Linked DNA regions of Homo sapiens. The protein of the gene in region 1 binds, or shares a complex with, the protein of each later gene. Each region holds a gene or a part of one and is shown in the gene's direction. Other genes may lie near its edges.

Region 1 (15,583 bases):
TGGGTTTCACCATGTTGGCCAGGCTGGTCTTGAACTCCTGACCTCAGGTGATCTGCCCATCTCTGTCTCCCAAAGTGCTGGGATTACGGGCGTGAGCCACCCGGCTCGGCCGCACAACCAAATCTTATTAAACTCAATCTAGTCTGGCCCTGGTGACTCACGCCTTTCGGAGGCAGAGGTGGGAGAATCGCTTGAGCCCAGAAGTTTGAGACCAGCCTGGGCCACACGACAAAGCCCCATTTCTACAAAAAAAAATACCAAAAAAAAGCCAGATGTGGTGGCATGCACCTGTAGTTTAAGCTACTTGGGAGGATGAAGTGGGAGGACTGCTTGAGCCGGGGAGGTGGAGGCTGGAGTAAACTGAGATCGCGCCACAGAACTCCAGTTTGAGCAACAGATCAAGACCCTGCCTGAAAATAAATCAATAAATACACTCAACCTAAATGGATATGAATATATGTAAGTTGAAAACCAGTTTTGAGAAACATCCTTTGTAAGTTTCATCCTACGAATTGGGTCATTCATGTCCTACGCAGCTAAAACAGAGGCCAGCAGCCAGGGAGGAAAAGCAGTCAGGCCACACACCATTGCTCCCAAAATGGACTTATCTGCAAGCCTGACTCCTGAAACTGTGCATTGTACCCTGAAACCAGCTTTATCCATAGCTTCTGCCATAAATGGCTGTAAGTCTTGGACTCCTTGCTCCAAACGCAGTGACTCAGCAATGGAACCTCCCAGCTCCCAACACTTCCTAGTGCCCATGGTGGGCTTTCCCACAGGGCAAGAGAACATTTCTCCTTTTTTTTTTTGAAGTGGAGTCTCGCCCTGTCACCCAGGCTGGAGTGCAATGGCGCAGTCTCCGCTCACTGCAACCTCCACCTCTGTTGTTCAAGTGATTCTCCTGTCTCAGCCTCCCGAGTAGCTGGGATTACAGGCGTGCACCACCACACCGGGCTAATTTTTGTATTTTCAGTAAAAACGGGTTTCATCATGTTGCCCATGCCAGGCTTATTTTTATTTTTTTCAGATGAAGTCTTGCTCTGTCACCCAGGCTGGAGTGCAGTGGTGCAACCTGGGCTCACTGCAACCTCTGCCACCCGGGTTCAAACTATTCTCCTGCCTCAGCCTCCCGAGTAGCTGGGATTACATGGGTGTGCCACCACGCCTGGCTAATTTTTGTATTTTTAGTAGAGATGGGGTTTCAGCATCTTGGCTAGGCTGGTCTTGAACTCCTGACCTGGTGATCCACCCGTCTCGGGCACCCAAAGTGCTGGGATTACAGGTGCGAGCCACCTGGCCAGGCTTAGGCTGGTCTTAAACTCCTGACCTCAAGTGATCCGACCTCCTTGGCCTCCCAAATTGCTGGGATTGCTGGTGTGAGCCACAGCGCCTAGCCCATTTCTCCTTTTTATAAAACCTGTTGCTGTCTCTGTTCTCCCAACATGGTGAACACCACCCAGACTGCGTGTATGTCCCAAATTCTTTCTTTGCAAATGAAATGTGAAATTAGAGGCTCTTCTCCACACTTTAAATTTGACTTGTCATTTTCTAGGCAGATGTAAGTTATTAGAGAATGAGATTCTCTATAAAAATGACCCCTTCATGCTGTGGCCTCCACAGAACATGCCCCAGGCCAGGTGCCCACACAGCAGGCATTTATTTCCTCACACATCTGGAGGCTCCAAGTCCAAGTTCGAGGGGTGGGTTGGGTTGTTTGCTCTGAGGCTGCTCCTCCTGGCTGGCAGGGAATCCCTTCTGGCTGTGTCCTCTGTGGCCTTTCCTCTGTGCACCTACCTGCACCTCTGGGGTATCTCTGCCTCCAAATATCATCTTTTTTTTTTTTTTTTTTTTTTGAGACAGAGTTTTACTCTCGTTGCCCAGGCTGGAGTGCAATGGCATAATCTTGGCTCACTGCAACCTCCACCTTCAGGGTTCAAGCGATTCTCCTGTCTCAGCCTCCTGAGTAGCTGGGACTACAGGCATGCGCCACCACGCCCGGCTAATTTTGTAGTTTTAGTAGAGGCGAGGTTTCTCCATGTTGCTCAGGCTGGTCTTGAACTCGTGAGCTCAGGTGATCCACCCTCCTCCACCTCCCAAAGTGCTGGGATTACAGGTATGAGCCACCGTACCCGGCCTTTTTGTTTTGTTTTGTTTTTGTTTTTGTTTTTGTCTTGAGACGGTGTTTTACTCTGTTGCCCAGGCTGGAGTGCAATGGCATGATCACTGCTCACTGCAACCTCCGCCTCCCAGGTTCAAGCAATTCTCTGGCCTCATCCTTCTGAGTAGCGGCGATTACAGGCGCCCAGAACCACTCTCTGCTAATTTCTGTATTTTTTAGTAGAGATGGGGTTTCACCATGTTGGCCAGGCTGGTCTCGAACTCCTGACTGCCCACCTCGGCCTCCCAAAGTGCTGGGATTAAAGGCATGAGCCAGGGCACTTGGCCACCCTTCTCCTTGATGGACCCCCGCCAAGTGAATTTGTGCCCACACTAGAGGTCTCGTTTAAATTAATCATCTTGGCCGGGCGTGGTGGCTCACGCCTGTAATCCTCCCACTTTGGGAGGCTGAGGCTGGCAGATCACTTGAGGTCAGGAGTTGGAAATATGCCTGGTCAACATGGTGAAACCCCGTCTCTACTAAAAATACAAAAAAATTAGCAGGGCGTGGTAGTGGATGCCAGTAATACCAGCTACTCGGGAGGCTGAGGCAGGAGAATCGCTGGAACCCGGGAGGCAGAGGTTGCAGTGAGCTGAGATCGTGCCATTGCACTCCAGCCTGGAAGACACAGTGACGCTGCATCTCAAAAAAAAAAAAATTAATTAATTAGTTAATCATCTGTTGGCTGGGTGCGGTGGCTCACGCCTGTAATCCCAGCACTTTGGGAGGCTGAGGTGGCGGAGTTGGAGGTCAGCCTGGCCAACATGGTGAAAACCCACCTCTACTGAAAGTGCAAAAAGTAGCTGGGCATGGTAGTGGGCACCTGTAATCCCAGCTACTCGGGAGGCTGAGGCTTGAATCACTTGAACCAGGGAGGCAGAGTTTGCAGTGAGCCGACACGGTGCCACTGCACTGCAGCTTGGGCGACAGAGTGAGACTCCATCTCCAAAAAAATTAATTAATTAATTAACTAATCATCTGTTGAAAAGGACCTGTCTCCAAATACAACCACACATTGAGGTAGAGGGGTTAGGGCTTCAGTATATTGATTTTTGGGAGAAACAGGGCAACATGGCAACAAGCCACAGTCACTGTGGGCGGGCCTGAGTGGGGAGTGCAGGGGTTCCTGTCCTGTGTGTCTGTCTCACAGGGGAGTCCTGACCTGACCCTCACAGCCCCTCCACCCAGACCTTCCTGCATGTTCCACCCAGCCCACCCTCCTGCACCCAAGAGCACCCAGCCCTCCCTTCTGCTCATGCCCCTCCCTTCTCAAATCCCTCCCAGCAGTGCAGCTCTGGGCTAGGACACAGCCTAGGGAACGTGACTGAGAAAGAGCCAAGAAAACTTGATCAGTGATCAAGTTGGTGTTTAAGTAAGATTTTCAATAAAAAGTAGAATTGGGTACTACATGGAGGCTTGAGATGCTCAGAGCTTTTCGAGAAAGCAGAACAGAAAGTAGAAGGGCAACCAGGAACCAGAGGTGCCAGAGAACTGGAAGCGCGGGCCCTCCGAGGAGACAGGGAGTGGGCACCTGGGTCTTGGGCCTGTCGACAAAAAGAGTCAAACTCTGTAAAATATTTGAAGAGACGTATTCTGAGCCAAATACGAGTGACCATGGCCCGTAACACAGGGCTCAGGAGGTCCTGAGAATGTGTGTGTGCTCAAGGTGGTGTGGGTGCGGCATGACTCCCCAGACCCCTTAGATAGGAATTTGGTTTTATATATTTTAGAGAAGCATCAGCTATCAATCAAACACATTTAAGAAATACAGAAGCTGAGCGTGGTGGCTCACGCCTGTAATCCCAGCATTCTGGGAGACTGAGGCAGATGGATCATGAGGTCGGGAATTCTAGACCAGCCTGGCCAACATGGTGAAACCCCGTCTCTACTAAAAATACAAAAAATTAGCCAGGTGTGGTGCTGGGCACCTGTAATCACAGCTACTCGGGAGACTGAGGCAGGAGAATCACTTGAACCCAGGAGGCAGAGGTTGCAGTGAGCCAAGATCACGCCACTGCACTCCAGTCTGGGCGACACAGCAAGACTCCGTCTCAAAAAAAAGAAAAGAAATACTTCGGATTGCTCCAGAAAGGTCGGACGGCTCAAAGTGAGGGCAGGAGTGCTGGGGGGCTTCCAGGCTACAGGTAAATTTAAACATTTTCTGGTTGACAATTGGTTGAGTTTGTCTAGAGACCTGGCATCCATAGAAAGGAAACGTTCAGGTTAAGATAAAAGATTGTGGAGATCAAGGTTCTTTTGAAGTCTCATAGTGGCTGCCCTTAGAGACAATAGATGACAAATGTTTCCCATTCAGGCCTTTAAAAGGTGCAATTAGTTCATCTGTTTAGGACCGGGAGGGCCTAGAAGAAAAAGATCCAGCTATGTTAATAGAGATTCTTTACAGATACAAATTTTGCCCCACAAAGGACAACTTTGCAGGGCCATTTCAAGATATGGCAAAGAAACATGTTTTGGGGTAAAATATTTTGTCTTTTTACTTTGTCACATAATGTTGTGCCTGAGTCAGATTGGAAAGTAACTCACAATATATAGGGTTAAATAAAACCCATGTGGGCCGGGCGCAGTGGCTCATGTCTGTAATCCCAGCACTTTGAGAGGCCTAGGTGGGTGGATCACCTGAGGTCAGCAGTTCAAGACCAGCCTGGCCAACATGGTGAAACCCTGTCTCTACTAAAAATACAAAAATTATCCAGGTGTGGTGGCGGGCACCTATAATCCCAGCTACTTGGGAGGCTGAGACAGGAGAATCGCTTGAACCCGGGAGGCGAAGGTTGCAGTGAGCCGAGACCACACCATTGCACTCCAGCCTGGGCAAGAAGAGTGAAACTCGGCCTCCATTAAAATACAATAGGAAAAAAAAAAAAAAAAATAGAACCCCTCTGATGAGGATGTACGGGTTGTAAGGCATGACTCCCCAGACCCCTTAGATAGGATTTTGGGCAAGATTAAATAAAAACAAATCAGAGCTTAGTCCAAAGGCCTATGAACTAAAAATAAAGTCTTTAGCCCCCACCGATCCCCCCCAACTTTGGCCCCCAGTGGCCAGGGGTATCTCAGAAAAACCTTAAAACTGAGTTCCCAGCCATGATGGGAGGGGAGGTCAGGCACGCCTCATTATCACCCCGCCCTTTTGCAGTTTAGACACAACTGACCAGCAGTAATGTTAAAACAGAATCATAAGATGGGCAGAACCAGAACAGACTCTTCATGGCAATCAGATACCAAATCACAACCAGGACCTCAGGCCGTGCCAGGCAAGGGTGAGATCACACACCCCACACTTAAACAGTCAACTCTGTTCTGCCTGCCCCAAGGTTTTTTTTTTTTTTTTTTTTTTGCTCTAGCAGCTAAACAAGCACTGCCTCCAGATAAAGATGAAAACAATCACAGCTCACCCAGCGCCCGGACGCGGAGCAACAGAGCCCCTGCTCCACAGCCCTAATTCCAGGTTTCCCTGGACAAGAGACTGATTTCAGTAACTTTCTCCAGATCGGAAGACCACGGACCACGGACTAGTTCTGAATGGTTTACAGACCTGGCAAATTTTGGTGCCTTCATGTCCTGAAAGGACCTTTTGACATACAGGCTTAATTGTGGTACATTTAAATGTTGTCTCCACCGCAATGTGAGGACGGATTATACGGTTGCTTTTTTTTTTTTTAGATTTTTGTTTGTTTGTTTTTTGTTTTGAGATGGAGTCTCACTCTGTCTCCCAGGCTGGAGGGCAGTGGCGCGATCTCGGCCCACTGCAACCTCTGCCTTCTGGGTTCAACTGATTCTCCTGCCTCAGCCTCCCGAGTAGCTGGGATTTCAGGCACGTGCCACCACACCCGGCTAATTTTTGTAGTTTTAGTAGAGACCAGGTCTCACCATGTTGGCCAGGTTGGTCTCGAACTCCTCACTGTCATGCGTGTCTGTATAGAAAACCACCTAAACAGGCTTTGTGTAAGCAATAACGCCATTTATTCACTTGGGTGCAAGTGGGCTGAGTCTGAAAAGAGAGTCAGCGAAGGGAGATAAGAGAGGGGCAGCTTTATAGGACTTGGGTAGGTGGTGGAAAGTTACAGTCGAAGGTGGTCATCTGTTGTCAGCAGGGGAGGGGGTCACCAGGTGCATGGTGGGAGACCATGAGACCCATTGTCCAGAAGAAGAATGTCATAAGGTCGATTGATCAGTTAGGGTAGGGCAGGAACAAGTCCTAATGGTGGAATGTCTTAAGGTTGGTTAATCAGTTAAGGGAGAAACTGGCTGTTTCACTTCTTTTGTGTTTTTTTGGCTGCTCCAGACTTCTTGGCTGCTGCAGGCCATCTGGATGTATATGTGCAGTTCACAGGGGTCACAATGGCTTAGCTCCGGCTCAGAGGCCTGACACTGACCTCAGATGATCCACCTGCCTCGGCCTCCCAAAATGCTGGGATTACAGGCGTGAGCCACTGTGCCTGCCTGGGATCATATGTTACACGCATGTTTGTTCAATAAGCATGGAGTGCAGCCACCCACATGAATATTCATAGCTCCTCCTATAGCCTGTTGAATATGTATGTTTAGCCAACCCCTTCAGCATAAAGCTCCTGCCCCAACCCCTCCTGCTTCTAAATGTCTGTCTCTGGTGTTTCCCAGAGGCTGCTCTTCCCAGGCTGCGGGATGGCTACCTTGCTGCCTGTCACCCTTAACAAGAAATAAAATCTCCTTTCCAAATTTATACATTGTGGCCAGGCGCGGTGGCTCACACCTGTAATCCCGGCACTTTGGTACGCCAAGGCGGGCGGATCTCCTCAGATCGGGAGTTCGAGATCAGCTGACCAACATGGAGAAACCCTGTCTCTACTAAAAATACAAAAATTAGCCAGGCATAGTGGTGGGCGGCTGTAAGCCTGACCAACATGGAGAAACACTGTCTCTACTAAGAATACAAAAATTAGCCTAGGCGTAGGGGTGGGTGCCTGTAATCGCAGTTACATGGGAGGCTGAGGCAGGAGAATCTTTTGAACCTGGGAGGCAAAGGTTGCGGTGAGCTGAGATTACGCCACTGTACTCCAGCCTGGGTAACAGAGCAAGTCTCCGTCTCAAAACAAACAAACAAACAAAAAAACACAAAAAAACAAAAGCAAACAAAAAAACCAAATGCATCCCTTGTGTAATTTTTAGGTCACCGCGCCATGGGAACACGCTACCAGGGGAAGGGAGCTGTGAGACGCGCAGGGAGGCTCCAGACAGGCTGGCCTGGGACACCAGCCACTGCTCTTCCATGACATGGGGACAAGAGGAGGCGAGAGCTCAGCCCACCAGGGAGGAACTCCGGGCAGGAGATGGGGAAGAAGGAGAAGCAGGAAGGAAAGAGCTCAGTGTGGGGGCGCGCATGGCATCCCGGTGGGACATCTGAGGCCCACACCCACCTGCTGTCCCTCCCTCCCACGGTGGCCTCCGAGGGTGAAGGCCTGGGGAGAGGCAGACACCTGGCCCTTTACTCTCCCTCCCTGTCCCCATGGCCGCTGGGTGGGGGCCGTCTCTGGGATGATCCCCGAGGGCAGGATCCGGGAGTCCCTGCGGAGGCATCAGCCTGTCTGTCTTGATGGTGGAGAGGAGGCTCCAGCTGGGCGGGACCACCAGGGGAGGGGCTTGTGCTCTGCTGGCTCAGCCTGGTGTGGACCCACCTCGCGGGCGCTGGCTGCAATGACTTTCTCTTTCCCTTTGCAATTGCCTTGGGTCCTGCCGCACAGAGCGGCCTGTCTTTATCAGAGGTCCCTCTGCCAGGGGGAGGGCCCCAGAGAAAACCAGAAAGAGGGTGAGAGACTGAGGAAGATAAAGCGTCCCAGGGCCTCCTACACCAGCGCCTGAGCAGGAAGGGGGAGGGGCCATGACTACGAGGCCCTGGGAGGTCACTTTAGGGAGGGCTGTCCTGAAACCTGGAGCCTGGAGCAGAAAGTGAAACCCTGGTGCTCCAGACAAAGATCTTAGTCGGGACTAGCCGGCCAAGGATGAAGCCTCACTTCAGGTACCGCTGCCCGCTCTACCCGCTGGGCCCCTCTGCTGCCCCTTCCTGCCTGGTGGCTCTGCTGGGCGTCAGCCCTGGCCTCCCCCTGCCCCAGCCCCAGCCCTGGGCTCCCTCCCCTCTGGCTCCCCTGCCCCCGCCACTCCCAGCCAGGCTCTTTTTCCTGCTCTGTGGTTGCCCCACTGCTGCTTCTGAATAGGCCGCTTCCCCACCTGCCCCAGCCCAGGTGCCCTGCTGAGACTCTCCCCCGCCACCGAAAGTCATGGCAGGGCTGGTGCTCCCGGCCCTGGGAGGGTGCTCCCTCTGTGTTCTTTCCGCCATTCCTGAACTCTGGAACTGGGAGAATTGAACCAAAGGATGATTAGAGCAATGTGGAATTTTGTTCACAGTGCTTTGATGGATTTTCTGTAACATTTACTTTGCTTAAATAGCAAGTCTTAGGAGAGGGTGTGGGGAGGGAATGGTCTCTGAAGCACAAGATAAATCGTATCTTCCAAGGATGTCTCCACTGTGGGCAGAGGAGGATGCAGATGACCCCAAACACACGCTCCTCCTCCACTATCAGCATTCACTGTTTATAAATGACACGAGTAACATGGAATATAGTGGCCGGGTGCGGTGGCTCACACCTGTCATCCCAGCACTTTGGTAGGCTGAGGTGGGTGGATTGCCTGAGGTCGGGAGTTCGAGACCATCCTGATCAACATGGATAAACCCTGTCTCTACTAAAAATACAAAATTAGCCGGGTGTGGTGGCGGGCGCCTATAATCCAGCTACTCCACAGGCTGAGACAGGAGAATCGCTTGAACCCAGGAGGCGGAGGTTGCAGTGAGCCGAGATCGCCCCATCGCACTCCAGCCTGGGCAACAAGAGCCAAATTTCGTCTCAAAAGAAAAAAAAACAAAAACAAAAAACATGGAATATATGGGAAAAAAACTCAATGATCAGGAGAAATGCTATTATTTTAAAATTTAGTAAGAAGAGAGTCTGGTCCCCAATGGCTCCCTCCTGCAAGGCTGGTGACACAGAGACTGGACAGGGCTGGTCTGGTAAGAGGCCCCAGCCCCATCCGTCCCCAGCTCTGTGGCCTGGGCAGGTTACCCCATCTCTCTGCGCCTCTGGCACCTCCTCTGTAAGATGGGAATGGCCCGTGCGGGCCTAGGGCAGCCTCACATGAGCTCACATCCGCGCAGCACTTAGAAGAGTGGCCTGGGCCTCAGAATTCGGTTCTACCATGATTTAACAATAGTAATATACAGAGGTGAAATGTCAGAAGGAACTGGCTGAAAGGTTAAAATCTATTATTTTGGGGTGAATAGTTTTATTCTCTCTCTCTTTTTTTTTTTTTTTTTTGAGATGGAGTTTCGCTCTTGTAGCCCAGGCTGGAGTGCAGTGGCACGATCTCGGCTCACTACAACCTCCGCCTCCCAGGTTCAAGCGATTCTCCTGCCTCAGCCTCCACAGTGGCTGGGATTACAGGCACCCACTACCACGCTTGGCTAATTTTTATATTTTTAGTAGAGACTGGGTTTCACCATGTTGGTGAGACTGGTCTCAAACTCCTGACCTCAAGTGATGGGCCTACCTCGGCCTCCCAAAGTGCTGGGATTACAGGCATGAGCCATAATGTCCAGCCAAGAACTTTGTTCTCTTTTGCATTTTACTAATGCGTTGGAGAATGGGTGGGAGAAATACTGGGAAGGTGGGGAATGTACTCCTGGAACGACCAGAGCTGGACCCTGAGCTGGAAGAGGTCAGCCTGCCCCTGCTGCCCATGCCAGCATCCCCTTTTCTTGCTCTCTCCCCGGTCTTCCTGCCTGGGAAGGAAGCAAAAATTCTCAGGGCTGTGGAGGGGTTGGGGAGGCCCAGAGCCATGCAGGGGGCTGTGTTTAGTGGACATCAGCCCTGAGGGCTCCCGGGAGCGCTCTCTACATTGGCTGGTTTCTCTCTTGTGTCTTCAGAAACACAGTGGAGCGAATGTATCGAGACACATTCTCCTACAACTTTTATAATAGACCCATCCTTTCTCGTCGGAATACCGTCTGGCTGTGCTACGAAGTGAAAACAAAGGGTCCCTCAAGGCCCCGTTTGGACGCAAAGATCTTTCGAGGCCAGGTACCACCCGGACTTCAATCACTTTGCAGGCAGGAGCTAAGCCAGCTGGGAAAGCAAACCACGCACTGATAAGTGAAGTGCCCGGCGGCGGGCTATCCAGTGTGTCCTTCTCTCCCACACTTTCCAAGTCCGTGGCCCTGACCTTCCTGCTGGACCGTCCTGGGATCGGATCGTGGAGGGGGTTTGCCTTTGCACAAAAGGCCTTGTGTTTTTTTTTTTTTTTTTTTGAGACAGAGTTTCACTCTTGTTGCTCAGGCTGGAGTGCAATGACGCGATCTCGGCTCACAGCAACCTCTGCCTCCTGGGTTCAAGCGATGCTGTCGCCTAAGACTCCCGAGTAGCTGGGATTACAGGTGCCCACCACCACGCCCAGCTAATTTTTTTTTTTTTTGTATTTTTAGTAGAGACAGGATTTTACCATATTCACCAGGCTGGTCTCGAACTTCTGACCTCAGGTGATCCACCTGCCTCGGCCTCCCAAAGTGTTGGGATTACAGGTGTGAGCCACAGCGCCGGCCTAATTTTAATATTTAATTAATCCAATGTGGCTAACATATTACTTCAACATTAATTAACATAAAATTCTTGACAAGATAATGAAGTTTCTTTTTGTCACACTGAGTCTTTGAAATGAGCTGTGTAGGCCACGCTTGGTGGGTGGCTCGCGCCTGTAATCCCAGCACTTTGGGAGGCCGAGGTGGGTGGATCACCTGAGGTTAGATGTTTGAAAACCAGCTTGGCCAACATGGTGAAATCCCGTCTCTACTAAAAATACAAAAAAAAAATTAGCCCGGTGTGGTGGCAGTCGCCTGTAATCCCAGCTACTTGGGAGGCTGAGGCAGGAGAACCGCTTGAACCCATGAGGCAGAGGTTGTAGTGAGCCGAGATTGCATCATTGCACTCCAGCCTGGGCAACAAGAGTGAAACTACGTCTCAAAACAAAAACAAAAAACAAAAAAAGATAAATGAGCGGTGTATGGTGTATTTTTCAGGTGCCCAGGTCTTTCATCAGAGCCCCATTTCAAGTGCTCAGTAGCCCCTTTGGCCAGTGCGCCCCACCACATGGGACAGCGCAGGTCCAGTGGCCTCCCCAGCTGACCGCAGGCAGGGAACAAGGCAGACCCTAGAGGGCCAGGCCACAGCAGGGGCTGAGGATGCCTGGTGAATGGATGCCTGGGAGAATGGATGCCAGAATTCACGCATGAGGCTCTGAACAGGGCTGGGAAAACTTCCAAACGAAGGGAAGCTCATGTCTTGGTGCACTTTGTGATGATGCTTCAACAGCAGGACTGAGATGGGGACATTTACAATAAACAGAAATGTATGGGCTCGAGTTCTGGCCTCTGGGAAGTCCACTGTCAATGCACCAGCAACTTTCCAGGGCCTGCGAGCTGCACAGTCACGTGGGGGTAAAGGTTGTTGCCAGAAGTTCAGGGGATGCTCCAGACAGAGTGGCCTGGGATGTCGAGTCACTGCTGCTCCATGCCACGGGGACAAGAGGAAGCAGTTTAGTCTGACATACTGCCCCCCCAGCTAGAGGGCAAGAGACAGAAAGAGGGGCTGAAGTCGCCCTTGAATAAACACGCCAGTAGCACCCACAAAGGTGCAGCCCCCACAGCCTCATAGCCTCTTCTAGGTGCCACCTCTTAAGGCCATTACAATAGCCATTAACACTGAACGTGAGCTTTGGAGCAGACAATCACTCAAACTAAACAGGGGGGATGGAGGAAAGGAGCTTCAATGGCAAGATCCCCTGGGCTCCTGTCCTGGCCCCTCCTCTCCCTGCCCCACCCCTGCACTCCTCCTGCTCCCCCTCTCAGAGCATCCCCTGCCCCCTGCTCCTCTCCCAGGTGTATTCCCAGCCTGAGCACCACGCAGAAATGTGCTTCCTCTCTTGGTTCTGTGGCAACCAGCTGCCTGCTTACAAGTGTTTCCAGATCACCTGGTTTGTATCCTGGACCCCCTGCCCGGACTGTGTGGCGAAGCTGGCCGAATTCCTGGCTGAGCACCCCAATGTCACCCTGACCATCTCCGCCGCCCGCCTCTACTACTACTGGGAAAGAGATTACCGAAGGGCGCTCTGCAGGCTGAGTCAGGCAGGGGCCCGCGTGAAGATTATGGACGATGAAGGTGAGAGGTGGAGGGGTCAGGGGAGCGTGAGCGGGAGGAACAGCATGAAAGATGGATGGATCTGCAATGCCATGGCTGGGGGTGTCCCAGGGCAGCCTGCAGGGGCGGGGCCAGCACTGACAGCAACTGACAGCCAGGAGACCAGGCCTGGGAGCGCGGGCCCAGGGTCAGGGCAGAGCCTGACTGCTTCCTGCCTCTTCGTCTCAGAATTTGCATACTGCTGGGAAAACTTTGTGTACAGTGAAGGTCAGCCATTCATGCCTTGGTACAAATTCGATGACAATTATGCATTCCTGCACCGCACGCTAAAGGAGATTCTCAGGTGAGGGTCTCCCTCTGGCCTCATCGTCTGTCTCCTCTCGCCTCCTGCTCATCCTCCTGAGGCCTCCCCTGGCCAGGCCCTCCTGCCCTCCGTCCTGCCCCCTGCCTGCCCTCATGGTTACACCCCTCACCCACACTCCTTGTGCTCCTTCCCCTTCTTGCCTCCTCCCTCTTTCCTGGGCCCCTCCTATGAGTGAGAGGCCCCTTCTGCCTCCAGAGCAACCTCCATCCACCTTCGAGGCCGCCCTCCCCACAGCCTGGGATCCCCAACCTGGCTCCTTCCATCTCCCTGGCATAATCGAATTTGTCATAAAACTGGACGTAAGTGGGCATGAATATTCACAAGGCCGACAGCCAGAAGCTTTGAGCAACATCCTTCAAGGCCGACCTGAGTCCCTGAGAAGGAGCAGCCTCTGTGGAAACTTCAGGCTTCGACTGCCATAGAAGATGCCCCCGGGCCGGGTGCCCACAGGGCAGGCATTTATTTTCTCACAGATCTGGAGGCTGCAAGTCCAAGGTGGAGGGGTGGGCGGGGTTGTGTCTTCTGCAGCTGCTCCTCTTGGCTGGCAGGGGGTCCCTTCCAGCCCTGTCCTCTCTGGCCTTTCCTCTGTGCACCTGCACCCCTGGGGTCTCTCTGCCTCTAAATGTCCTCCTCGTTTATGGACCCCAGTCAGACAGGATTAGGGCCCACCCTAAGGGCCATGAGTTAATTTAATCACCACTTTAGTGGACCTGTCTCCAAATACAGTTATCCTGTGAGGAGGTGGGGATGAGGGTTTCAACATATCAATGTGGGGAAGATACAATTTAGTCCATGACAATGGGTCAAGCTTGCGTGGGGCATGCAGGGGTCCCTGTTCTGTGTGTCTGTCTCCCAGGCGAGTCCTGCCCTGACTCTCACAGCCCCTCCCTCCAGACCTTGCTGCACCCTGGGCCCCACCCCATGGCTTCCCCACCCAACAGCACCCAGCCCGGCCTCTGCTCACGCCTGTCCCTTCTCAAATCTGCCCCCAACAGGGATGGAGATGCAGAAAGAGCCAAACAAACACTCAGTGATCAAGGTCCCAATTGAATAAGATTTTTTTTTTTTTTTTGAGACACTGTCTCCCTCTGTCGCCCAGGCTGGAGTGCTATGGTGCGATCTCGGCTCACTGCAATCTCTACCTCCTGGTTCTAGCAATTCTCTTGTCTCAGCCTCCCAAGTACCTGGGATTACAGGCTCATGCCACCACACTGGCTAATTTTTGTATTTTTAGTAGAGACGGGGTTTTGCAATGTTGGCCAGGTGTTGAGTAAGATTTTGCAAAAGAGTAGGCTTGGATAATGGGAGGCTTGAGATGCCAGGAGCTCTCCAGGAAGCACAATAGAAAAAGGCAACCAGAGACCAGAGAGGCCATAGAAAGGGATCTAAGGCCCTCGGGAGAGACGGGAACTGAGCACCTGGGTCTTAGACCGGAGGAGCAAACTGCAAGACAGGGTGGCCGGGGACACCAGCCTCCACCCTTCTGTGACATAGGGACAAGAGCTCAGCCTGCCAGGGAACAACTCTGGGCAGGAGATGTGGAAGGAAGGAGCTCAGTGTGGGGGCACGCATGGCATCCTGGGGGGACATCTGAGGGCACCCCCACCCGCTATTCCTCCCTCCAATGGTGGCCTTTGAATGTGAAGGCAAGGGGGAAGCAGACACCTGCCCCTCACTCTCCCTCCCTACCACATAGCTACCGGGTGGGGGGCGTCCCTGGGATGATTCCTGAGGGCAGGATCCAGGAGTCCCTCTGGAGGTCCTCCCATCCAGGTGAGAAAGCAGCATAAAGTGAGACCTGCACTCAGATGGGCCTGTGAGGTCACTCACAGCGCAGGTGTCTCCTGGAACAAGGGCCCTGGAAGATAAAATAGAACCCAAGCCCAGGACTACCATCAGGGCCAGGACAAGCCTGCCAGGGAGGGTGCACATGAAGCCCCAGATCAGGGACCACTGCCCGCTCTGCCCACGGGGCCTCTGCTGCCCCTTCCTGCCTGGTGGCCCTGCTGGGCCTCAGCCTGGCCTCCCCCTGCCCCTGCCCCAGCGCTAGTCTCTCTCCCCTCTGGTTCCTCTGCTGCTCCCACTACCAGCCAGGCTCTTTGCCCTGCTATGTGGTCGCCCCTTTACAGCTTCTGAATGGGCCATCTCCCCCACCTGCCCCAGCCCAGGCCCCCTGCTGAGACTCTCCCCCGAAAGTCACCCCTTTGCTATTGCTCCCCGCCCTGGGATGGTGCTCCCTCTCTGTGCTTCTCGCCATTCCTGAGCTCAGGAACTGAGAAAATTGAACCAAAGGATGATTGGAGCAATCAGGCATTTTGTTCTCAGCACTTCCATGGAATTTCTGCAAGATTTACTTTGTTTCAACACAAAGTCTTAGGAGAGGATGTGGGGGAGGGAATGGTCTCTGTACCAGAAAATAAGTCACTTCTTCCAAAGATGCCTCCACTGTGAACAGAGGAGGATGCACATGACTCCAGACACAGGCTCCTCCTCCGTGAGCACCATTCACCTTTTAGAATGAAACCTGCAACATGGAGTGTAGGAAAAAATATGATGATCAGGAGAAATGCTCTTATTTTAAAGTTTAGTAAGAAGAGAGTCCGGTTCCCAACAGCTCCCTCCTGCAGGGCCTGTGATGCAGAGGCTGGACAGGGCTGGCCCGGAAAGGGGCCCCAGCTCCATCCATCCCCATCTCTGTGGCCTGGGCAGGTTACCCCGCCTCTCTGTGCCTCTGGCACCTCGTCTGTAAAATAGTGATGGCCCCCTGCAGGCCTCAGGCACATACCATGAGCTCAGACCCTCACAGCACTTAGGAGAGTGGCC
Region 2 (14,630 bases), on another chromosome or scaffold:
CGCGCCCCGAGTGGGCCCGGGCGGAGAAAAGTTTGGGCGGCACGGTCCCCGGGAGTCCCGGTCGGTGCGCCCGCGGAGGGGCAATCTCGCCGGGGCGGCCATCGCCCGCAGCCTCTGCTTGCCCTTATCGGCGCTGCGCTGGGAGGGCGGGCGCGCGGGCGGCGCCGCGGATTTGGCTCCTGATTTCGGGCCGTCTTGCCTTGCAGATTAAGTACACGGGCTTCAGGGACCGGCCCCACGAGGAACGCCAGGCACGCTTCCAGAACGCCTGCCGCGACGGCCGCTCGGAAATCGTAAGTCGGCTGGCCCGGGGCGCGCGCGGGTCACTTGTTGCGCGGGGCCGCGGCGGCCCAGGCCGGTTCCGGACGGCGGCGCGGCTGCTGCGGCTCCCGGAACTGAGTGGGCGCCGTCTCACTTCCTACTCGGGATTCAAAATGCGAAACCAGATGCCGCGGGCCGGTACTCGCGGGGAGACGCTTTTCCTGGGGCTCGCCGCGGTGGCGCGTGTCGGCCAACGGAGCACCGCGAGTGGAGCTCGAACCCGAGCCAGACTAAACAAGCGAAGGGCATTGTTTAGGCGGCGACACCGAAGAAGGGTTCAGGGTATTTGTAGCAAGCAAACCCCCATTCGGAAAAAGAAGTGGAGCTTCATTCAAGGTCGGCGATAGTTTGTTTCTTAGAAGGTAGATCTGTCGGTAATTCTCTGTGTCAAGCGGTCTCACTACCAGATCGCCGAGTAGAAATCTTTCCTCCAGTTATTTATTCTAATAGAGAGGGGAGGGGGGGGAAAAGGCCCTAAAAATGTCATTTTCTTAGAATGTTAAGCTTCAGGAGAATCAGAAAGAAACCATTATCCCCATGTCCTGAGTAGGGCTGCTGTTCCTAAAAACTGCACAGATGGGCAAAACCCACGGTTGATCTCGAGGTCCTTGTTTTAGGAGGCAGATTTAGTGCGTCTTCACCAGACCTTGGGTTGAAAAAAAAAATCCAAGGGTCCTAGTTCCTCTCATCTTTTTGGTTTGCCTTGTTGGAGGTGCTGATGAGGAGGGAGTGGTAGGAAGAAACCAAGAAAAGAGGTTGATTATTACTATTTTTTTGAGGTAGAGTCTTGCTCTGTTGCCCAGGCTGGAGTACAGTGGCTCGATCTCGGGTCACTGCAACCTTCGCCTCCTGGGTTCAAGCGATTTTCCTGCCTCAGCCTCCTGAGTAGCTAGGATTACAGGTGCCTGCCACCACGCCCGGCTAATTTTTGCATTTTTAGTAGAGACGGGGTTTCACCTTGTTGGCCAAGCTGGCCTCCTGACCTCAAGTGATCCGCCCTCCTCGACCTCCCAGAGTGCTGGGATTACAGGCGTGAGCCACTGCGTCTGGCCTGATTATTTTTTAAAAAGTTGAAGCACTGTCTAATGGAATGCTGTTACTCTCTGCTCGGTGACTTGGACTCACTGCATTGTTAGAGGCTTGAAGCTAGGTGCGATTTGAATTTGGGTTAACAGTAGGAAGACATTGGAAATTTACTTCTCCCACCCCCTTTATAAAACCAGTTTATTTTTATTCAGATATAATTCATATGTCATAAAATTCTCCCTTTACATCACTGAACTCAAATTTATTTTTAAAGAATATTTTGATATTTTAAGTGAAAGCTTTTTAGAGTTGTAATAGTGAGAAGATACTGGTTAAATTTATCAGGAGCTCCTGAATATTTGGTCATTAGTGCATGTTATGAAAGAGAGTCTCAAGCTTTTAGCCCACTTGCAAATTTCTTGAGTAATTGTAGTATTTATATGATTGAAGTGCATAAGACATACTTTTAGGTTTTGGCACTGAGTGGTATAATAAAAGAATTCATTAGCTGGTGCGATGATCGTGTCATCCTTTGCCTGGGTTACCTTTTGCAAAGGGAAGGTGGTATACCTGACGATAGAATTTCCTGGAGGTAAAGGATGCAAGTATAAAAGATAAGTTACAAAGTACTTGTACTCTCACTGTTTGCTTTTTTGTTTTGAGACGGAGTCTCGCTCTGTTACCCAGGCTGGAAGCACAGCAGCATGATCTTGGCTCGCTGCAACCTTCGCCTCCTGGGTTAAAGCGATTCTCCTGCCTCAGCCTCCTGAGTAGCTGGGATTACAGGCACACACCACCACGCCCGGCTAATTTTTTTGTATTTTTAGTAGAGACGGGGTTTCACCATCTTGGCCAGGCTTGTTTTGAACTCCTGACCTTAAGTAATCCTCCCACCTCGGCCTTCCAAAGTGCTGGGATTACAGGTGTGAGCCACCGCGTCTGGTCTTGTTTCGTTTTTTTTTTTTAAGAGAGAGGTCTTGCTGTGTGGCCTAGGCTGGGGTGCAGTGGCTGTTCACAGGCACAATCATGAGGCACTACAGCCTCAAACTTCTGGGCTCAAGCGATCCTCTTGCCTCAGCCTCCCAATAGCTGGGACTACAGGCTCGGCGTCACCATACGCAGCCCCATGTGTTGTATTATCATCACTATCTTTGAAAGCTGAATTTTTTTGGAAATTTGGTGAATCATAGCTAGTAGGGTGTTTTCTGTCATCTCAGACTTTGCTGAATGGAATTATGAATTCAACCCATAGGATATCTGAAATGCTGTAATATTATAGTAGTAGTACAGGTGGTTAGTGTTTGTCATGAATTTATTTCCAGGATGAATTAGACATTCTAGACCTTCCCCGCTTCCAAATAATCTGATCCTCACCTGAGCCCGGGAGGTCGAGGCTGCAGTTAGCCATGATCGTACCACTGCACTCCAGCCTGGGTGACAGAGTGAGACCCGGTCTCCAAAAATAAAACAAGTATCTGATTCGACACATTTTACAAGTTTTAAATTTCTGAGAAGTATTAAAGGTTAAAGAAGGTAGATTGAATGCTGTGTGAGGTTTGCACTTAAGACGGCTCATGTCTTATTTTGTTAAATAATGTAACTATTGGTATTTGGAGAGGAATTTCACGTTTCCTAGTTTTCTCTCTTTCTAGTTTCCCTCCTTTAATTCAGTGTTAACCCACATTTAATTACAGGATCCTTAGCTCCTAGAGGGTAGAGACCTCATTAATTTTGTATAAACCCCTCTGGATACAGCTATTTTTCACAATACCTTTTATATCAGAGGTACTTGATTATTTGAATTTAGAGGCTGCTTAATTTAATGCCTGAAATTTATCTCATGACTTATGAACAGGCTGGGTTTCTTCCTATTTGGCTGTGGAAAAAGGCATTATTTTGCCTGTTTTGACAGCAGCCATAAATGGCAAGGATATCCATAGTTCTCAAAACTATTCCCAACCTTTCTCCTGCCCCAGTTGTCCTCTTCTTATTTGGAACATCTTCTTGATGTATCAGTGAGGTTAATGAAGAATTCATTTTGCTGTTGCCCAGGCTGGAGTGCAGTGGCATGATCTTGGCTCAGTGCAACCTCCGTCCCCCATGTTCAAGTGATTGTCTTGACCCAGCCTCCTGAGTAGCTGGAATTACAGGCGTATACCACCATGCCCAGCTAATTTTTGTATTTTTAGTAGAGACGGAGTTTCACCATGTTTGCCAGGCTGGTCTCAAACTCCTGACCTCAGGTGATCCACCGACCTCGGCCTCCCAAAGTGCTGGGATTACAGGCGTGAGCCACCACTCCCAGCCTCATTTTGCATTTAGATGTGAAATAATTTAAGGGCTGTGTTGATCATCTCTCTTTAACTATAAAACTCAATCAGCCTCCTTATTTTATGCCAATTGAGTTTTTAACTGTAAAACCCAATCAGCATTAAATAAAAGTGAACACAGGTCGAAGAATCTGTAGTAGAATCTGATTTATTCTTTTTTGAGACTGGATCTTACTCTGTCACTCTGGCTGGAGTGCAGTGGTGCCATCTCCGTTCACTGCAACCTCCACCTCCTGCTTCAGCCTCCTGACTTGCTGGGATTACAGGCGCCTGCCACCACGCCTGGCTGGTTTTTGTATTTTTAGTAGAGATGGGTTTCACCATGTTGGCCAGGCTGGTCTCCAACTGCTGGCCTCAAGTGATGTGCCTGCCTCAGTGAGCCACTGCACCCAGCCTTGATTTATTCTTATCAATTCTTTTTTTTTTTTTTTTGAGACGGAGTCTTGCTCTGTCGCCCAGGCTGGAGTGCAGTGGCACGATCTCGGCTCACTGCAAGCTCCGCCTCCTGGGTTCACGCCATTCTCCCGCTTCAGCCTCCCGAGTAACTGGGACTACAGTCGCCTGCCACCACACCCGGCTAATTTGTTTTTGTATTTTTAGTAGAGACAGAGTTTCACCGTTGTTTTTTTTTTTTTTTTTTTTGAGACGGCGTCTTGCACTGTCGGCTAGGCTGGAGTGCAATGGCACGATCTTGGCTCTCGGCTCACTGCAACCTCTGCCTCCTGGGTTCACACGATTCTCCTGCCTCAGCCTCCCGAGTAGCTAGGATTACAGGCGCACACCACCACACCCGGCTAATTTTTTGTATTTTTAGTAGAGGTGGGGTTTCACTATATTGGCCAGACTGGTGTTAAACTTCTGACTTCGTGATCTGCCTGTGTTGGCCTCCCAAAGTGCTGGGATTACAGGCTTGAGCCACTGCACCCGGCCTATTCTTACCAATTCTTATGTAGTTAAGAATGTTGGAGACGTCTTCAACACTAATAATCAAATAAAGAAAAAATATTTATAAGAAGTATGGTTACTCTGTGGTGAGAAGAGTAAAAACTAATACATATTTCTAATTCTAAAGATTGAATGGTAAAAAGTATGTTGGATTGGCACAAGGTGTGCTATTTTATAATTTGTGAAACCTACAAAGCATAAGACAACCTGGAAATCTTAAATATAGGCGTCATACTAGTGTAGCATTTTAATGTTTTCATTTTGTTTATTTTCGTCTTTATTTTCCTATGACGATGTTGACACCATATTAATATTTTGGAACAGACTTTTTCCAACTCTTACCTATATGTAGGTATTTCATTAAAAGAATTCCATGGTCACATAAGTTTGGAAAATGTTATTCTAGAATGATCTGTGTTTACCACTTCTGTCTCAGAGAGGGATCTTTATGAGATAATGGACATATAGTGATGAAGCAGGAAATCTCTTCTGAGGTTGGCATCAAGACAGGAGATGAGGTAATACGATCTGCAGAGTGTCTTAGCACAGAACTGATTTGGGGTACACTGGAGGTGGAAGGATTTGCTACTACGTGAATACTGAAGAAACAAGCCACAGGGATTTTGACACGGGGCAGTCGTTCATGGGCTGTGTCTTTTCTGCCACCACTCTGCTCTGAGAATTTCATTATCTGAAGCTGAAAAAGTTGGCTTTCTTGTTGAGCTTAAAGTTATTTATCATATTATTCAGCAGACACTTTCATAGCATTTACTTGGTACTGTTTTAAGCACTTTACAAATAATTGATTTGTGAGAAAACTGAATTATGCTTCAGGTCGTACAGCCTGGGCAGTTTCCCTCCCAGAAACTTTTTTTTTTTTTAACTAGTGTTGGGGGGTTTTTTGTTAAGATTTATGCTCGTAGTACATGGGAAGTTTTTTTTGTTTTTTGTTTTTGTGATGGAGTCTCGCCTTGTTGTCCAGGCTGGAGCACAGTGGTGCAATCTCGGCTGACTGCATGCAACCTCTGCCTCCCAGGTTCAAGTGATTCTCCTGCCTCATCCTCCCAAGTAGCTGGGATTACAGGCGTCTGCCACCATGCCCAGCTAATTTTTTGTATTTTTAGTAGAGACAGGGTTTCACCATGTTGGCCAGGCTGGTCTTGTACTCCTGACCTCAGATGGTCTACCTGCCTTGCCTCCCAAAGGGCTGGGATTACGAGTGTGAACCACTGCTCCTGGCCTGAAAGATTTTTTAAAATGATGTTGTAATATTGATGTTAGTTCAGTTTCTATGGATATAAAACATTTACCACATGAAAATGGTACCCCAGTTGATTAGGGAAATGCCATCAGAGAGGTTTAGAGATTTAGCATTTAGGTTGACAAGTGTACCGACAGTGCCAGTAATAGAAATAGGAAGTATAATTTTTACCTCTAAAGAATCTAAGCTGTTAACCATCAGGGGAACTATTGGATAGCTAACTTGGTTGATGGCTTTAAACAAATTGCCCCAAATGTGAACCTCTTGATTTGAGATGAAGACTCTATGCATGGAAACCAATTATGCTTCAGAACTTAATTAGTAGAATAAACCAAACAAAAAACTTTTTCTGGTTTCAGCAAAGAAGAGTTTACATTTAGATGATGAAAAATGTATTTTTTCAAAAATGCTTTTACTTCTTTTTTTCTTAATTTCCTTTGGGAAAGGGGTAATGTCTTTGTTTTTTGCCTGAGGGAAATATAGAGGTAACTTGCTCAAGGCCTACATAAAATGACACTTTATTGAAGTGGTTTTAGATTGTTGCATCTGTTGAGCTCTAACATCCAAATCTTTTATATTTATAAATCTAATCTATAAATATTTATTAGATGAATACTTTTCTCTTTGTTGTAGTCAGACCAAGTTCTCCTAAAGTCAAATGTGAGAAAAGACATATTTTTAAAAATCATCTAGGGTTTTAGAGAGTACTGTCACATCCCATGCCAATGTATGGTTTATCAGAGGAGAGACAATTCCAAGTGCATTTTTTATGTACTGCCTGCTATGCAGTGTTTCAGCAAGGGAAATCAAGGAAAATTAAAGTGTCTCATTTATACAATTTTAAATTGTGGTATTCTTTAAAATTCAAAATCTTTAGATTTTGAGTGATTTTTACATTTAAAAATAGAAGTTTTTAAATGCAGAGATGGATAGTGGCTTCTGGTTAGACATTAGCAGTGTGAGATCCTAACGTCAGCAAAAAATGACCTGAAAGAAAGTATTGATTCCATGTCTGATTTTATACTTAAGCAGCCAATGGCAAATGTCCTCAAAATGGAATCAGATGTTTGTAACTTAATACTTAAGAAAAATGATGAGTGCATGTTTTTTTTTACTTTTAAGTATTCTCTGTGCTGCCTGGCTTAAGACATAAACTGATGTAAAAATAAATGACTGCTTGCATAATTTATGTAATGTCCTGCTCCTGATCCTGTTTGTATTGATTTTTCTAAAAGGCTTTTGTGGCCACAGGAACCAATCTGTCTCTCCAGTTTTTTCCGGCCAGCTGGCAGGGAGAACAGCGACAAACACCTAGCCGAGAGTATGTCGACTTAGAAAGAGAAGCAGGCAAGGTAGGAAACATTTCTTTGCAATTTAAAATACTGTGGGTTGTTTTGTTAGAGATTATCTGGTAATTTACATTTTAATAAAGATCACAGATCTGATTATACCAGCATATGCTCAGATTTGTTTTCATTCCATGTTATAAGGATGTAATATAATTTTTTTTTTTTAATGGCGTTTCGCTCTTGTTGCCCAGGCTGGAGTGCAGTGGCGTGATGTTGGTTCACTGCAATCTCCGCCTTCCAGTTTCAAGCGATTCTCCTGCCTCAGCCTCCTGAGTAGCTGGGATTACAGGTACCCGCCACCACATCTGACTAATTTTTGTATTTTTAGTGGAGATGGGGTTTCACCATGTTGGCCAGGCTGGTCTCGAACTCCTGACCTTGTGATCCGCCCACCTCTGCCTCCCAAAGTGTTGGGATTACAGGCGTGAGCCACTGTGCCCGGCCAATATAATTTTTTAAAACCACTGTTAAACTTTTGTATCACTCCATTCCTAATTTCATGTACATAATATTTGTCATAGAACATTCTAACCCTTAAGGAAAGTAACATAACAATTTCTTTAAAAGTTTGAGGAGATATATTTTGTTTACAAAAATATATGTAAGTATAGTGCTATAAAAATAAAACAAGAGGAAAACGGAAAAAAGCTCTCTAGGTTTAAAAATTAATAGTATTTAGAAATAGCTCATAGGTAACTTTCTAATTCCATTAACAGCAAATTTACATTTGAGAAAAACAATGTGAAAACTTTAACTTGGAAATACTTTTTTTTTGTTTTGAGAAAAAGTTTCTGGGAACATGTCTTACAGTTTCGATGTTAGAAGTTTAGGTTAAAGATACAAAAATATAGGTAAAATGTTTAAGCTGAGAGCCTTATTTCAGGTCTACGTTAAATGTATTATGATTTTGGTAATTTTTTTTTTTTTTTTTTTGAGATGGAGTCTCCCTCTGTTGCCCAGGCTGGAGTGCAGTGGTGTGATCTTGGCTCACAGCAACCTCCACCTCCTGGGTTTTAAGCTATTCTCCTGCCTCAGCCTCCTGAGTAGCTGGGATTACAGGTGTGCGCCACCACGCCTGGCTAATTTTTTTGTATTTTTAGTAGAGACAGGGTTTCCCCATATTGGTCAGGCTGGTCTTGAACTCCTGACCATGTGATCCACCTGCCTCTGCCTCCCAAAGTGGTGGGATTATAGGAGTGAGCTACTGCACCTGGCCTGGTAAATTTTAATGAATAGCATCTTGGATTGGTTGATTCTTGATTGAGAAGTCAAGGAGTTGACTTCTAGAATAAAATTTTTAAAGAAGAAACCCTCTTTTAAATATAGTTTTATACTCAAAACACCCTTTTGGATCCAGTTTCATACTTTTTTTGTGTGTGTTTGTTTTGCAGTGTGTTTTTGTACCCGTTTCTATCAACTTACTAAATTAATTTTCTAAGTGTCATCATGAATAGCATAACCTGCCACATTTATGTAAAATGTGAGAAATGTCTAAATATTCCTTTGAGAAATATTTAATTTAATCTTGTGTGTATATATATATATACACGTATATATGTGTATATATACGTATATGTGTGTGTATATATGTATATATGTGTGTGTATATACGTATATGTGTGTATGTATATACATATATATGTATATATAAAATGAATTTTTTGTTTTCTCCAATTCTGTAGAATTAGATTTGATCTTTTGTGCGTGACAAAACAATCTTTGGATTAGAAAAGGGAAAACAGATTATAAGATTTAAAAAAATGAGTACTAAGCAAGCAGTTTGCTTTCCTGTGTATTAGCTTGTTTGCTTGGAAAATTAAAAGTGAATGTTCCAGATTTTACTATTTGGTAATTCTTACACAATATATAAGGAAGAATTTGAGAAGTCCTTGTACGATTATTGGTTTTTTTGTGCTTCTGGTGCGTGTATGTGTGACTAAATGAAGAAATTATTTTTTTTCTTGTTTGAATACTTCCTTAAAGTTTGTTTAACATGGTAGCTCAGATACTAAAGACGTAAACCAAAAAAAAAAAAAATTTGTTTTTTGTCAGCTTTAGCCCAAAACTATTTTAAGACTTCAAGGGCAACATCTCAGTGTTACTGAAGTCTTCCGGTATTTAATAACTAGTAAATGGGTTGTTAACTCTACCAGAAATTAAGTTTGCTTGAATTAATTTAATGATACTGCTTCACTAGTGTGAAGACCACATAATCCTTGGACTTAAACCATTGAGATGTTTTTAGTTATATGACCAAAAATAACAAAAATGTGAGATGGTTTATTCTAGTACAGTCATGTGTCACTTAATGGTAGGGATATGTTCTGGGAAATGTGTTGCTGGGTGATTTTTATCATTGTGTATATATAGAGTGTACTTACACAGATCTAGATGGTATAGCCTACTACACACTTAGGCTATCTGGTATAGTCTGTTGCTCCTAGGCTACAAACCTGTACTGTACAGCATGTTACCGTACTGAATACTGTAGTCAACTGTAACACAATTTGGTAAGTATTTGTGTATCTTGATGTATCTAAACATAGAAAAGATATGGTAAAAATACAGTATTTAAAAAATGGTATACCTGTATAGGGCACTTACTTTGAATGGAGCTTGCAGGACTGGAAGTTGCTCTGGGTCAGTCAGTTGAGTAAGTGGTGAATGAATGTGATTCTGTAGATTATATAAACATAGTATGCTTAGGCCGCACTAAATCTATAAAAATTAAGCAATTGCACTGCAATGTTAAAATGGCTATGATGTCACTAGGCAATAGGAATTTTTCAGATTCATTATAATCTTACAAGACCACTGTCATATATGTGATCCATTTTAGGCTGTAACGTTGTTAAAGCAATACATGAATGTATTAAAAAGATATGTTTTTAATTCTATTAGGAAGAGTGATAGAACTATGCAGGCTATCAGGAAATGTACATTTTATTAATACTGGTTTTAGAAGTTTTTTTTTCTGTGAAGGGACAAATGTAAATGTTTTCAGTTTTGCAGGCTTTCAGTCTCTGTCACAACTACTCATCTCTGTAACTCTGCTGTTGTGGTGTGAAAGGGACCCTAGACAATATGTAAACAATTGAGTGTGGCTGTGTTCCATAAATGGTGACACTGGTAGAAATCAGTATCTTTCCCTCAGATGTAAATCTGTAAATGTTTATGCATAGGTCATGTATTTCTCAGATAGAATTTTGTCAACATCTGTACTACTTCTGTACTACTTTTTTTCTAGAAGAAAAAAAAGCATTTTAAGGCAAAAACTCGTACTGTACTGTTCCGTGCCACTGTAATAAAGTTCTCCAGTGAATTTAGAGAAAAGGCATTGCCCTGTGTTTTCTCATCCGTGGAGCTCAGACTGTGGGGTCTCGAATTTCTTTTCTCTTTTTATGGTCTGTTTTATTATAACCATTAGGTTTTGTTTCTGTCCCCACAGGACTAGGACTGGAAGCAAAGAAAATTGAAGGAACTTCTCCAAATGTTAATTATTTGCCTCTGTTCCTTATATTGGATTCCAAATCAGTGTCTTCTTCCATATTCTCTCAACTGAGTTACCTTCTGAAGCAGCTTAGTTCTCGTCCTGTTCATACGCAGTTTTGAGGAACTATAGTTGTAAAGGCTTTAGAGTTAGGCAAAATTGAGTTAAGTTCTGGCTTCTGCATTTACTACAGTGTAACTTTGGGCATGTTGTTTAATCATTGTAATCCTTAGTTGTAGAATGAGATTAATGGGTACTTCCCAGGGTTGCTGTTGAGAGTAACTGAAATAGTGTATGTAAAGTGTTTTGACCACTACTGTACCTGTCACAGTTATCAAAAAATTTATTCATTCAGAAGGTCTTTGTTGAACACCTGTTACGTGTACTGAGCATTGTCCTAGGTATTTGAGATACATCAGTGAACAGAGATCCTTAACAGACAATATACATAATAAGTTATGTAATAGCTTACAAAGTGACAGTACCTTTGGGAAAAAGGAAAGGTATTATAGGATAAAGATGATCAATGAACAGGAAGTTTGCAGTTTTAAATTGAGTGGTCTGGGTAAGGAAGATCATACCTGAACCAAGACACAAAGGAGGTTAGGGAATGATGAGCCCTGCAGGGGTTGGGGGTGGAGGAGAGATGTTCCGGACAAAGGAAACAGCCATTATAAAGGGCCCCAGAGTGGCACCCTGTTTTTGATCAACAGCAAGCAGGCCATTGTGGCTGGAGTAGACTGTGAAAGAAGTTGTAGTAGATGAAATCAGAAATAACAATGAGCCAGTTCATGTGACCATGGTAGGCCATTGTAACCACATGGGCTTTTTATTCTGAGTGAGATGGGGAATAGTTTTGAGTGTTTAGTTTGCTTATATTTTAGGGACAGGGTCTTGGTATGTTGCCCAGGGTGACTCAAACTCCTGGACTCAAGTTATGCTCTTGGTCAGCTTCCGAAGTAGCTGGGAGTAAAGGCATGCTCCTGCACCTAGCTCAGGCTTTTGAGCAGATGAATGATATTATCTACGTTAGGTTTTGACAGACTCATGCTAGCTGCTAGGTTAATAATAGGTTATAGGGGGCAAAAGTGAAGCAGGCTATTGCAGTAATCTTGGTGAGAGACCAGGGTGGTAGCAGTAGAGGTAGTGAGAAATGGTCATATCCTGGATGTATTTTGAGATAGAGCCAATAGGATTTGCTTATGGATTAGATATGGCGTGTGAGAAAGAGAAGAATAAAGAATGACTCTAACTTAGGCTGAGGCAGGAGAATTGCTTGAACCCGGGAAGGGGAGGTTGCAGTGAGCTGAGATCGTGCCACTGCACTCCAGCCTGGGCAACAAGAGTGAAACTCCATCTCAAAAAAAAAAGAATGACTCCAACTTTTTGGCTAGAGAAACTGGGACTATGGGGTTACTGTCATCGGGATGGGAAAACTGGCTGGAACAATTTTGAACAGCAGGTTAGGTTGGTTTAGCGCATGTGAGGTTGTGGTGGGAGCTTGTTATTGCAGCTTGTTTCTTTACTTTTTTTTTTTTTTTTTTTTTTAAGAGAGAGGGTCTCACTCTGTCACCCAGGCTGGAGTGCAGTGGTGCAATCATAGTTCACTGTAACCTCAAACCTCAAACTCCTAGGCTCAAGAGATCCTCCTGCCCTTCTTTTTTTTTTTTTTTTTACCCCTGACAAAACAAGGTCTTATTCTGTTGCCAGGCTGGAGTACAGTGGCGCCGTCATGGCTCACTGCAGCCTCAATGTCCCAAGCTCAGGTGATCTTCCCACCTCAGCCTCCTGTGTAGCTGGGACCACAGCATCTCACCTGTAACCCCAGCACCACCATGCCTGAAGTTATTTTTGTATTTTTTGTGGAGATGGGGTTCTGTTATATTGCCTAGGTTGGTCTCGACCTCCTGACCTCAAGTGATCCTCCTGCCTTGGCCTCCCAAAGTGCTGGGATTACAGGCATGAGCCACCACGCCCAGGCTTTTTAAAAAATCATTTGTTTCTAAGTGTTTCATTATTTTTTCTGCCTCTGTCTCTTGACTGACTAGGACGACAGATATTTGCCACCACATCTGGCTAATTTTAAATTTTTTTGAAGAGAAAAAAATTTTGCTCAGGCTGGCCTCTAACTCCTGGCCTTAAGCAATCCTCCCACCTTGGCCTCCCAAAGTACTGGAATTACAGGCATGGGACACTGCATCCAGCCTGAGTTTTAACAAATGTATGCACCCATGTAGATGCTACCACAGTCAAGATATATTTCAGTCACCCCCCCAAAGGTTTCCTTGTGCCCCTTTGCAGGAACCTGGGACTGACTGCACTGGGTGGTTCTGCCTCAGTGTCTCTCATGAGGTTGCAGTCAAGCTTTTGCCTGGGACTGTGCAGTCTCTGAAGACTTGACTAGAACTGAAGGATCTGCCTGTTGGTAGGTGGCTTCACTTCCTAGTCATGCTTCTCCATAGAGAGAAAAAGAGTGAAGCCACCATGCCTTTTATTTATTTATTTATTTATTTGAGACGGGGTCTTGCTCTGTCATCCAGGCTGGAGTGCAGTGGCGTAATCTCAGCTCTACAACCTCTGCCTGCCGGGTTCAAGCAATTCTCCTTCCTCAGCCTCTCAAGTAGCTGGGATTACAGGCACATGCCACCACATGTGGCTAATTTTTGTACTTTTAGTAGAGACAGGGTTTCACCATGTTGGCCAGGCTGGTCTCAAACTCCTAACATCAGGTGATCTGCCTGCCTCAGCCTCCCAAAGTGCTGGGATTACAGGTGTGAGCCACTGCGCCTGGTCCACCATGCCTTTTATGATCCATTCTTCAAGTCACTTTCATACCTTTTATGATCTATTATTTGAGTCACTTGTTGCTTAGCCTGTTCATTAGAAGCTGGTCACTAAGTCTAGCCCACATTCAACAGGGAGGGAGGGATTACACAGGGGTGTGAATACCAGGAGGCTGGGATCATTGAGGCCATCTTGGAGGCCAGCTACAATAATACTCACTTAAATTTAGCGAACTCAGAAAAAATTAGAATCCTAATAGAGCGGAAACAAAAAGCTCTATATTCTCTATTATTTGAAATACAGTTTTATGATTTAAGAAAATGGGCTCATAGAAATTAGTCCTTTTATTCATTCTGTTGCTTATGTGGCTATAGAATATTTTCAAATCAAGGGCTTCTATAAGGAAGGTCTGTTAACGGGTGACTGATTATAAGTATATACCTTACATATGACCAAGTCAGAGCACAGAATTTTATAATCCTTCAAATATATTTGAAACTTTTATACCCAGGTACCTGGTGAGCTGTCTACATTGGCTCTTAATAAGGATCTTTCTCAGAAATGATTTAAACTAATAACAGTATAATAGAAAGAGCTCTAGATTTGAGTCAAGACAGTCATAACTATTTTCCTTAACATGTAAATGAGGATCAGAATGTCTGCCCTATTCATGTGCCTCATGTGAGAATTAAATGTAGTACCAGAATATGTGAAAATGCCTTTTAAATTGTAAACCCCTGTCTACAGTTAGGCAATTTGATGGTTCTGTAGGGTGAGATTATAGCTAACTGATTGATAGAGTGTTTGTGCTACAGTGTGCCTTAGGTAAGCTTCACGTCAGGTAGTTGAACAATGTTGGAACACTACATCTTTCCCAAGTGTTCCATCCTGGTGTGTTACAAACACTGGCAGCCAAAATGTTCTTAATTCTTTAATCTAGCTGTCAAAAGACAAGGGAAAAGCAACTAATCAGAATTTAAATCATTCTTAAGTTAAAATTGTGTAGACCAGGCAACTCCAGTTCCTTTGATCTTTCCTCTTAGGACTTATTTCCAATTACTTTTATTTCAAATAAATGCAAGTGATTATGGTTGACCATAAATTATTAGTCTTGAGTGGTCAGA

What was found.
Region 2: the proteins of APOBEC3F (region 1) and CBFB are in contact, whole or in part, in a cryo-EM structure (PDB 6NIL), measured with the Homo sapiens proteins. Residues at the interface, in NP_660341.2 of Homo sapiens: Glu289, Leu291, Ala292, Arg293, His294, Ser295, Asn296, Glu324; in NP_001746.1 of Homo sapiens: Phe32, Asp34, Arg35, Arg43, Glu54.

What each region holds. Positions count from the first base shown.
Region 1 is NC_000022.11:39,032,804-39,048,386, forward strand, and holds the start of APOBEC3F (DNA dC->dU-editing enzyme APOBEC-3F), read left to right. Parts: upstream 1-8,060; 5' UTR 8,061-8,157; coding exon 8,158-8,174; intron 8,175-10,133; coding exon 10,134-10,287; intron 10,288-11,279; coding exon of another isoform or gene 11,280-11,414; exon of another isoform or gene 11,415-11,620; intron 11,621-12,137; coding exon 12,138-12,417; coding exon of another isoform or gene 12,418-12,624; coding exon 12,625-12,739; intron 12,740-12,955; coding exon of another isoform or gene 12,956-13,073; exon of another isoform or gene 13,074-15,583.
Region 2 is NC_000016.10:67,029,521-67,044,150, forward strand, and holds part of CBFB (core-binding factor subunit beta), read left to right. Parts: intron 1-206; coding exon 207-293; intron 294-7,118; coding exon 7,119-7,235; intron 7,236-14,630. UniProt on the Homo sapiens protein: Forms the heterodimeric complex core-binding factor (CBF) with RUNX family proteins (RUNX1, RUNX2, and RUNX3).